Linked DNA regions of Homo sapiens: region 1 is linked to region 2. Evidence: fine-mapped expression QTL. A gene starts in region 2. The other region holds a variant in brackets. All regions are shown on one strand. Distances are from middle to middle.

Evidence for each region.
Region 1: its variant is fine-mapped to the expression of INPP5D in whole blood (TOPMed, PIP above 0.99).

The regions. Positions count from the first base shown.
Region 1 is chr2:233,166,019-233,171,382 of GRCh38, reverse strand. INPP5D (inositol polyphosphate-5-phosphatase D) reads right to left here. Exons shown (of 27, transcript NM_001017915.3): 14 at 1,982-2,078; 15 at 1,219-1,357; 16 at 779-887; 17 at 231-319. Among named protein-coding and RNA genes, the nearest start is that of ATG16L1, 83 kb to the left of the region's middle. The variant GT/T (reference allele first, on the strand shown) is at 1,972.
Region 2 is chr2:233,057,636-233,062,999 of GRCh38, reverse strand. INPP5D (inositol polyphosphate-5-phosphatase D) reads right to left here and starts at 2,658. Exons shown (of 27, transcript NM_001017915.3): 1 at 2,388-2,658. The coding sequence starts at 2,521. RefSeq lists enhancers at 1-333, 334-927, 2,014-2,103, 2,704-2,983 and silencers at 304-353, 2,424-2,503.

The DNA.
Region 1 (5,364 bases), 110 kb before region 2:
AGAGTATCTGGACAGAAGGTAAATCACAAGGGTTATTTTCCCAGCTCAAAGCAGTGCACAAGTGTGGCTTCCCATTTACTCTGTAACACAAATCAACATGTGCTTTCTAATTTTTTTCTTTCCTTTTTTTTTTGCCTAATGGATGAAGACACTTTCTGTTCACCTTTTGGGAACAGACACCAGCGGGGAGGAGATGGAGGGCAGGGAAGGTGTCTATGAAGAGGACTCACCCCTGTCGCTTTCTGCTTGGTGTAGGCGTATTTGTCCCGAGTCAGTCTCTCAAAACGGTAGGTTGGGGCAAACGTGATTTCTTCCTCCTCTGAAACAGAGAGACTTTCGTTTTAATTCTGATTCCCCAGGTTTTGCATCTGGCCAATTTTCCCTATTCTTCTGGTAGGAAATCAGGGGAAAGGGGACGAAAGGATGGCTGGAAAGGCTCCAAGAGGAGAGGCTGCTGCTTTTTTTTTTTTTTTTTTTGAGACGGAGTCTGTCTTTGTTGGCCAGGCTGGAGTGCAGTGGCGCGATCTTGGCTCACTGCAAGCTCTGCCTCCCTGGTTCACACCATCCTCCTGCCTCAGCCTCCCAAGTAGCTGGGACTACAGGCACCCGCCACCACACCCGGCTAATTTTTTGTATTTTTTTAAGTAGAGACGGGGTTTCACTGTGTTAGCCAGGATGGTCTCCATCTCCTGATCTCGTGATCCGCCCGCCTCGGCCTCCTAAAGTGCTGGGATTACAGGTGTGAGCCACCGCTCCCAGCCGGGGTTGCTGCTCTTACCGAAGTGTAGGAAGACCTTCTGCTCCCTCCTCTCTGTGAGCAGCTGGTCGTGGGACAGGAGGTCTGCGTACTGCTGCTGCTTGATTTTCTGGATGATGGTTTCTGCCTCCTGGAACAAGAACATGCCCGGGCCTCTGGTGAGAAGCCCTGCTGATCCAGGCCTGACAAGCTTCGGGGCTGGGGGCGGGCAGCTGGATGACCCGGGCTGCAGAGTGATGGTGGCAGGGTGGCTGTGACAGTTATGGGAACCGGGTGTGAGCACAGGGGAACCGTGAGGAGCGGCTGAGGCTCAGTAATGGAAACAGCGTTGAGCCCCCAAGGGGAGCAGCCGCCTCAGCCCACTTGATTCACATGTCTCCACGACCACCTGCCCCAAGCTGACTCAAGGGAGCCTCCATCTCATACAGCCCCAGCCCCAGCCCCAGGCGGGCAGCCCTTACCCAGGTAGGCAGATCCACACGGTAGTTAAGATCCCCAAACCAGAAGAGGTGCGTGAAGCGGTGAGTGATGTTAAAGGGACTCAGCTTCTTGTCGCCCAGGGCCAGGAACCGGAGAATGTTCATATAGTTTTGGTTTCGCCTAATGCAAGGAAAAAGCGGCCATCTAGCACGGGGTCACTGGTTCCCCCTCCACTGTGGCAGGAAGTCACTCCTGCCATAGGTGTGGGGCGAGGAGCATAGCAGGTGGGGGGAAGTGAGACTTAGCCCTCCAGCCCTGCTGCAGCAGAACTCCTTAGTGTGCAAATATGGCACAGCCAGGATGCAAAGGGCATTTGAGGCCACATTGGGTGTACAGAGGGCAGGGGACCAGGAGCAGCAGCATCTGCTCAGCAGAGAATCAGAACAGTGAAGATTCTAGATGGCTGTCTTCATTCCTGGGCCCCAGCTAGGCAAGATCAGCTTGGATTTGTAAGGAGGCCCCAGAGGAGGCTTTCTGCTTTAGAAACAGTGCTAGTTAGCGGTCCATCAGGCTAATGACACAAGGAAATATCTTTTCTGACCTTCAGACAAAATTCCTCCACACGTGAGGTCACTATGGTGCTGCAGTTGCCTTTGATGAGACTGTGGTGGGCCCTGAAAGGCCACAGGACATCCACAAGGTCAAAGGCAGGAGCTGAGCAGGTCCTTCTGGTGCTTAAAGGTGTGAGGCGTGTCTGGGCAGACAGCCCAAATGCACACTCTTGGGGGGAAGGA[GT/T]TCCATTACCTGAGTTTCTTTTCACTTCCTGAAGTCAAGTGGCTGTTGACGAACCCTAAGGAGGTTCCATTGAACATGAACGACACCCCCACGGCTCCCTTGTTCCCTAAAAAGAAGAGCAGAAAGAAGAATCAAAATATCAAACAGACACACTTGCCAAGGGGCCAGAAATCACCCGAAGGCAGGGTGAGAGGGGCAGTGAGTGAGGAGCTGGCAAGGGATGGGCGAAACAGGGTCGTGCAGGGTGGGAGCCGCTGGGCAGAGAGCGGGAGATGAGAAAATGCAGGAGCAGTGCAGATGGCGGCAGCCTCAGCCTTCTCGGCGGGGCAGAGGAAGGTGGCTGCTGCGATCCTCCCCCGGCATCTCTCTCTAAAGTGACCAGGGTGCTAAGCGGGCAGCCAGAAGCCCTGGGAAGATTCAGAAGGTTCCAGCCTGGGTGGGCTGATCTCCCTCCCAGTGAACTCAAGTTTCCTGGGGAGACCAAAAACCCACACTGAGATCATACCTTTTTCTGCCAACGTTCTGATCTATTCTAGGTCAGTGGTTCCCAAAGGGAGTTCCCTGGACCAGCAGCTGCACATCACCTGGGAACTTCATGGAAGGGCAGATTCTCAGCCCCACCCCAGACCTACTGAATCTGAAATCCTGGGATGGGGCCCAGTAATCTGTGTTTGACAAGCCCTCCAGTGTCAGGGGTGGGCAAATGCTGGCTCACTGCCAGCTACAAATGGTTTTACATTTGTAAATGGTTGGAAACAAATCAAAAGAAAAACCATCTTTTGTCATTCATGAAAATACGAAATTCAAATTTCAGTGTTCGTAAAGAACACGTTACTGGAACACAGCCATGCCTATTGACTTCTGGATTGTCTGTAGCTGCTTTCAGACTACGATGGCAGAGCTGAAGCATTGTGACAGTTGTGTGGCCCAAAGAGCCTAGAATATTCACCATCTGGCCTTCTATGGAAAACGCTTGTTAACCCCTGCTCTAGGTGATTCTGACACATGCAGGTGAGAACCTGCTCTGTCCAATACAGGCACAGGCCACATGTGACTATCAAACACCTGAAATGTGGCTGGTACAAAATGAGACAGGTTGTGAGTGTAAAATACACATTGGAATTGTGGCCTTGGTAAGAAACACAGACTGTAAAATATCTAATAACCTTTTACATTAAATATCTATTGAAATAATTGTATTTTGGATGTATGAAATTCAATAAAATCTATTATTGAAATTAATTTCACTTGTTTTCTTTTTAATGTGGCTACTAGAAAATTTGATCTATTGATTGTAATAAATCAAATTGTAATCTATTTTGATCATAAATCTATTTATTTATGATCTATTTGGCTCCCATCATTTTCTTTTCTTCCTTTCTTTCTTTTTTTTTTTTTTTTTTTTGGAGACAGAGTCTCACTCTGTCTCCCAGGCTGGAGTGCAGTGGCGCGATCTCTGCTTACTGCAACCTCCGTCTCCCAGGTTCAAGCAATTCTCCTGTCTCTGCCTCAGGAGTAGCTGGGACTACAGGCACCCACCACCACACCCAGCTAATTTTTTGTATTTTAGTAGAGACGAGGTTTCACCGTGTTGCCCAGGTTGGTCTCAAACTACTGAGCTCTGGCAATCTGCCTGCCTCAGCCTCCCAAAGTGCTAGGATTACAGGCGTGAGCCACGGCACCCGGCCCCATTTTCTTTTGGTTGGACAGCTCTGGATAGGCCATAGGCTGAAGGGACCCCTGGATATCACCTGGCTCAACCTTGTCAGGACCCAGTGGGGGAGTACACAGGCTTTCTGCCCTCCAGCCCTCTCCACTGCACCTAGCTCTCCAGCCCTGCCCCTCTGCCCGCAACCTGGGAGGGTGACCTGGAACTGAGCAACTGGTTCCAGTCCCGACAGCCTGGTTTCAATCCCTGCCCACCACATTCTTATCCCGGGGCCTTGGGCAAGTTATGGATCATCTCCATAGACTCTGTTTCTTCATCTGCAAATGGGAATAATAAGAGTCCCTGCCCGAGTGTTTGTATTTTTTTTTCTAATTTGAGACAAAGTCTGTGTCGCCCAGGCTGGAGTGCAGTGGCAAAATCATGGCTTTCTGTAGCCTTGACCTCCCAGATTTAAGTGATCCTCCCACCTCAGCCTCCTGAGTAGCTGGGCCCACAGGCATGCACTACTATGCCATTTTTTTTTTTTTTTTTTTTGTAGAAATGGTACCTTCCTATGTTGCCCAGGCTGGTCTCAAACTCCCGGTCTCAGGAGGTCCTCCCACCTTGGCCTCCCAAAGTGTGGGATTATAGGCATGAGCCATCGTGCCTAGCAGGGTGTTTATATCAAATGAGATGATTCAAAGCATTCAGCACACAGCCTTGCTTAGGGCACACTCTTAGAAAGGCCTTGGTTGTTCTAAGGACTTTTTTTTTTTTTTGAGATAGAGTCTCGCTCTGTCACCCAGGCTGGAGTGCAGTGGCATGATCTCAGCTCACTGCAACCTCCACCTCTCGGGTTCAAGCGATTCTCCTGCCTCAGCCTCCCAAGCAGCTGGGATTACAGGTGCGCACCACCACATCCAACTAATTTTTGTATTTTTAGTGGGATGGGATTTCACCATGTTGGCCAGGCTGGTCTCGAACTCCTGACTTCAAGTGATCCACCGGCCTCGGCCTTCCAAAGTGCTGGGATTACAGGCGTGAGCCTACCACACCGACCAGCATTTGCTGTTTCTGTCCTGTGCTAATTATGGCTGGGAGCCATTTCAGGGGAGTGGAGGAGGGAGGCTGGCCCCAGGGCAGAGAGGAGGGGAAGGAGGGGAAGGAGGGGAAGGTGTGTGTGAGCTGCACAGCCCAGAAGCTGCCCTGCAATGGTCATAAAGCTGGGACTCTGGCCAGGCCTTTCTCCTCACCCCTCAGATGCCAGTCGCACTGCCCTTCTCAGGGAGGCCCCTGACCTCTGCTCTCTGCCCACGCCACACACTCCTTCGCCAGTGCACTCCCTCCCAGGAACTGGCTTCTTTTCCTCCCGTCTGCTCATGCAATGTGTGTCAGGTCCACATGAGCAGAGCTCCTGCCTGCTCAGAAGCTGACCCAGTGCCCAGCCCTGAGGCCAGGATGACCAGGAACTGGTCTGGCTGAGGGGGTGGTTTTATGTGGCCCTAGGAGGTCCGAGCATATTCTGCACAGCGGGGCAGGGGCTGGTGGGAGGGACTGGAAGCCCAGGGAGCGATGGAATCCACACCCGGGGCGGTTGCTGGGCAGCAGGAGGGCGTGGGCGCAGCCAGGATAGCCACGCCAGCCCCACCCTTCTACTGTGGCAGGAAGGAAGGGGGACGAGTGGGGGTGGACGCGGGCAGTTTGCGGTTTGTCAGCAGAAAAGTTGAGAGAGCTTTGCACGTTC
Region 2 (5,364 bases):
GCTTTTTTTTTTTTAATGCCCTTCCTGCCTCTTTTGGTGTCAAAGGCTGCTTTCTTTCAAGAAATGAGGTGTTGGAAGATGACAGTTTGTTATCATTCATTTAATTAGTTTTTAGTTTTAAAATCTCCGTAATTGGCAAAATCCAGGGTGGCAGCCATATGAAGCCTGCAGATGTATGGAAAGTCTGCAGGTCCATAGCAACCCACGGCCTACAGTGGAGCCTGACCCTGCAGGAAGGGAAGCTTCCCACCCTGAGCAGAGGAGAAAGGGAAACACTGAGCCCAGGGTTTGTCTGGCCAAGGGGTGGGACTCCTGGTGTTTGCAGCCCAGCAGCCTCAGGATAGGAGGCTGACGAGGCTTCGGCTGAGAGGATAGTGGACATCTGTAGGCACCACAGGTCCCTCTCTAAGGAGCAGACACTGCACACCCATCATGACTCTGAGAGAACTCAGTGCAGACAAGGGTTCAGAGAGAAGAGGTAGAGGAAGGAATACGAGAACTGGCCTGGATCCCAGCAGTTTTGACCCCAGCCAGCATGGTGGACAAAGGCCTCAGGCTCTCTGCCCTCTGTCTACCTCCTGAAAAGCCAGGGCTGTTGCACCAGAGCTTCTCCAAGGCCTCTCCAGCTCTGACTCTGGCTCAGGCTAATCCTAGACGTTAAGATGCTCACGGCTCGGAGTCAGAGAGACCCACGCCCCATGTCTGTAACCTGAGCAACCACAAAGCAAGCCCTGGTCAAAGGGCTGTGTTGAAGGTTAATGAGATGGGGCCCTGGAAGCCCTCGGCTCAGCCAACACCAAACAGCCAGGACAAGATCCCACTGGGCCAGGAGAGAAATCCAAGTAACCCACATGGGCCAGGTGGAGTCAGACTGGGCTTGTGAGAGGCCTAAGAGAATCTTCCTGCTCCTTCTAAGGCCCCGGCAGCAGCAGGTCCCCACTGGGGAAGTCCAGGCAGCCTGGGCCTGCGTTCCTTCCCCTGAGGCATGAGAGAGGGGACACAGGAAACCAGTCTTTGGAGGTGGGGCTGCAGACTGTCAGCACAGGCCAGCGACCAGCTGCGAGCCTGGCTTGGTTTCCAGTGCCCCAGCTGACCCTGTAAACACTGTGGCTCCCCTTGCTTCTTTCTCCAGCCCTGCAAGGCTACATGCCTGCCCCGCTGGACTGGGAGCAGGAGAGGTTGGGCCACAGGCTGCTGGTCTCAGCTGCAGCCTCTGGGGGCAGATGGCCGTGGCTTTGACTGTTGTCACTCACTTAACCTGCCAGGGCCTCAGATTTCTCATCTGCAAAGTGGGGCTTTTAACAGGACCTTCACTTTAGGTTGTGGTGAGGATGAAATGGGCTAACAAATGCTTAGCACGACAGGTCCCAGCTGTGAGTCAGTATTCAAAACAGGTCTGGGTTCATCACCCAATTCCCCTCCTGCCTGGAGAAGCACAAGGCCCTGGCTGCTCGGGGGAACATTTCTGCCAGCCCAGGGATGCTACTTGAGATGTTCAGGTGGACACACATTTCCCTGACTACACTCCGGCACTGCCTGAGGCCCCGGCAAAATGATTAGACCAAGAGCTGCAGGGCAAGGCCCCCCTATGATTAGACCGAGAGCTGCAGGGCAAGGGCCTCCTTCAGACGCTGGACAGGAAGGGGGTTTTAGAAAGGAACCTTCAGCAAGTGGCTGGTTCCTCCATTGTTAGCACAGCTGGTACATTCAGTAACATCCCCAACCGGGCAGTGGGAGGAGTTGATGGTGACAGAGACCCAAATTGAGGGGGTGGGGGGTGGGCAGCGGTCACAGCCAAGTGCTCAGGAGAGAGAAGAGGCTGCTCGCTGGTGGTAATGGTGACTTCCTCTGCTCTCAGGCCCCTGAAAGCAGCTTCTGACTGAATGGAAAGTCCTTTCTTGATTAAACTCACCCCATATTCTTGGCTCGCCAAACAACAGCTTCCTCCAGGGGCCCGAAGCCTGGGTGCTCCAGGAAGGGTCCCCCTTGCCACCTTTGCTCTTCTCAGGGTTTCTGAGCTGGGCATCTTTGAGCTGATCTCTAACACACCCACCTCCACAGAGCCCTGAGCTTCCTCCTGGCTCCAAAAGCCCAAACTCCCTTCTCTCGGTCCCCAGACTCCAAGGAAGCCACAAGGTCCATACAGCTCATGGGAAGCTGGGGTGTAACATCAGGCCTCAGAGTGGTTCTGACAGCTCCAAGGCTGCAAAACCTGCCATGAGACCAGCTCTCTGAACTCCAAGGACAAGGTCCATGACAGGGTGGCGGGGAAGTGTGCATGTCAGATCACTCTGTCCTGTGACATAAGAACAACCCATCTCAAAGCTGGGCCCCCTCTAAGCCCCTCTGTCATATCTGTGCCCGGGGAGGGAGCAGGTTGTACTCACAGCACGCAGAGCGCGTATGCCCGGGAGATGGACTCGCTGGCACGCACGAGGAAGCTCCCGTCCTTGCCTGTCCTGGAAAGCAGCTCCTCCGCCTTGGAGCGGGTGATGTTGCCATGGTTCCAGCAGGGGACCATGGTGGGCGTGGGCCTCCTCGGCCGGGCCGGCAGGCACCCCCAGGACCCACACACCACCGAGGGGAGCGGAGGCCCCTCCACTGCAACCTGCCGCCCGTTGCCTCTTGGTGGCCTCGGCTGCTGCCACCAGCTTAACTGACTGACTTCCTGTTTCAGGCGCTCAGTGAGGGAAAGGAAACTGAGCTGCGGAGAACTTCCTCATTACAGAAACCAAGCAAGAGAGAGAGAGAGAAAGAGAGAGAGGGGGGGGCCCTGGCCGTCCACCGTCCCCTACACCCTGCCACGGCTGCCGCGGCTCTCTTGCCAGCCCTCTCCTTCCTGGCAACTGGTCGCAGCGTACAATTGAAGTGTCCAGTGGCAGCTGAAGTCCCCCTGGGTGGAATGACCGGCTCTGGAGACGTCAGGAGAGTTGTGGCCACTTCTGAAGAAGCATGGCCTAGCAGGCATGGGTGGGCCAGAGAAGTGGTTCTTCTGCGGCCGTGCTGACACCCACGTGGGATGCCATGCCCTAGACAGGCCCCCGAGCCTTCTGCTCTCCCTCAGGGCTTTTCAGCACCCACCCTGAACCTCCAAAACACCCAAGGGGGCACAGCTTCTCAACTGGGACTACGGCCTGCCCAGGACAGAGCAAACTTGAGGGGGAGGGGACAGTCGAGCCCCACCCCTCCCCTTTAGAGACTCCCAGCGGCCTGGGTGCTGGGAGACCTTGGCTGCCACCAGCCGAGGGCGCCAAGGTCCAAGTGATGGCTCTGTGACCCCATTACCCTCATTCCCAGGGGCGGGTGGGTGCTGCACGGGCAGCACAGCTCTGATCCCTGCAGTCCAGCTTGGAGACACACAAAGGGAGCTTGGAGGGGATGTGGGCCGTTTACAGCGGGAACATAGGCTGGGTTTTTCCCTGGGCTTCTCCAGGATGCTGGGGAAACAAGCTCGGAGAGGAGAACCCCAAAGCCCCACAGGGCAGGCTGGCCGCCTGGCCAAGGACAACACTGGGTGCTGAGTCCTGCGTCTCAGCAGTCGGGGTGGCCGGTCGGACTGCACCGCCTCCAAGACTGGGCATGGCCACATATGCCCACCACTCAAAGAGGAGCTGCCTCTCCAGGGACCGCCATCCAGGACCAGTCATTTCTGAGGGCTCTGCGGTGGACACCCATCCCTCAGCCCCCAGACCTGGGCACCTTCCGTCCTTGGGTCCGGCCCACCAAGGCCGAAGGGGCACGTGTTGACCCGCTGCACAAAGAGTGCCCCCACCATCCCACATCCAGGCCTTGGCCTCCAGGACATGACAACAGACTCCCTCCAGGAAGGGGCACCAGCCAGGCAGCGCCACCACATTCAAGCTGTGGGAACCTGGTCAAGTTTCTTCTCTCTCTCGGCCTTGGTTTCTTCTTGTCTAACTTGAAGGACGTAGCTCGTAAAAGAGCTCACATGTGCCCAGGGGCTCAACATGTGTCACACTGATGGTTGTCCCAGAACAGGGCCCCCAGCACCTCCCCGCTGAGCAACACACATGGCAGGCGAGTCTGTAGGGCAGACAAAGCACTCCCAGTCAAGGACCTCTGGCCAGGCTGGGAGCCAGGCGTGGGGATAGAGTGGTGATGGGAACTGGCCTCCATGCTCCGGCCCTTCCGCAGCACGCCACCTCTGCAGCAGCCCAGTGTGGAGGCCTCTCATTCCCCACCCACGCCTCCACTCAGCACCTGTCCACCCCCTCCTTATGGGGTCATCTCCTATGCTCCCATTGTGTACCTTCACACCCTTCTCACTTCCCTGCTGGCCTCCACCAACATCCATGAAGTCCTGGACCACGCCACCAGGAGGATCCATTTGCAATACTGGTCCCTTTACACCTCCACCCACTCATCTCTAGAGACCCCTACCATGCCAAGACTGCCCTACTTAGAGAGCTTCCCCCAAACCCCCAGCCCCCCACCTCTCACACCTCTATTCCCACGGTCCTTGCCATTCCACAGAGTGAGATCCCCTGGCACACACGCCACACGGGCACTCTTCCCTCATTTTTAAGGCCCATCCCAACTTTGCTTCCTTTTCCACCCAATTGCCTGATCTATCCAGCATGGTCAGCTGGCTTGTCCCCCACCCTTCTGCCCTCCACATTCAGGAAATCCCAGTATCTAGATCAGAGCTGCCCTTTTGGTGGGTGGATTTTTTTTTTTTGTAGGTCTCCAGTCAATATAAATAATTTTAACGTATTACAAAATTCACAAACTCATGTGAGGGATAGTGATTTATCAATGAAGACTTCAAATAATGGCTAGAGAGTGGCCAGGCACAGTGGCTAACACCTGTAATCCCAGCACTTTGGGAGGCTGAGGGGAGTGGATCACCTGAGGTCAGGAGTTTGAGACCAGCCTGGCCAACATGGTGAAACCCTGTCTCTACTAAAAAAAAAAAAAAAAAAAATCAGGTGGGTGTGGTACGTGCCTATAATCGCAGCTACAGCTACTTTGGAGGCTGAGCAGGATAATCACTTGAACCCAGGAGGCGAAGATTGCAGTGAGTCGAGATCGTGCCACTGCACTCCAGCCTGGGTGATAGAGCGACACAGTAAAAAAAAAAAAAAATTACTGTTCCAAATTTTATAGCATAAAGGTAGAACCACACATCTTCCAGCCATATTCTCTTGAATGTGTTAGGCCATAATCACTGCATTCCTACCTTGAGATCCCATTTGATGATGATTGCACCCTGGCCCTCCACATACAAGAGCAGTCTCACTCTCCAGGGATGTCTGCCTGCATCTGGCTTGGCAGGATCAATGTGGAGAGCTCAGCATCACCACATGGATGGGAGGTGGGAGATGATGCTGATGGGAAGAGCCC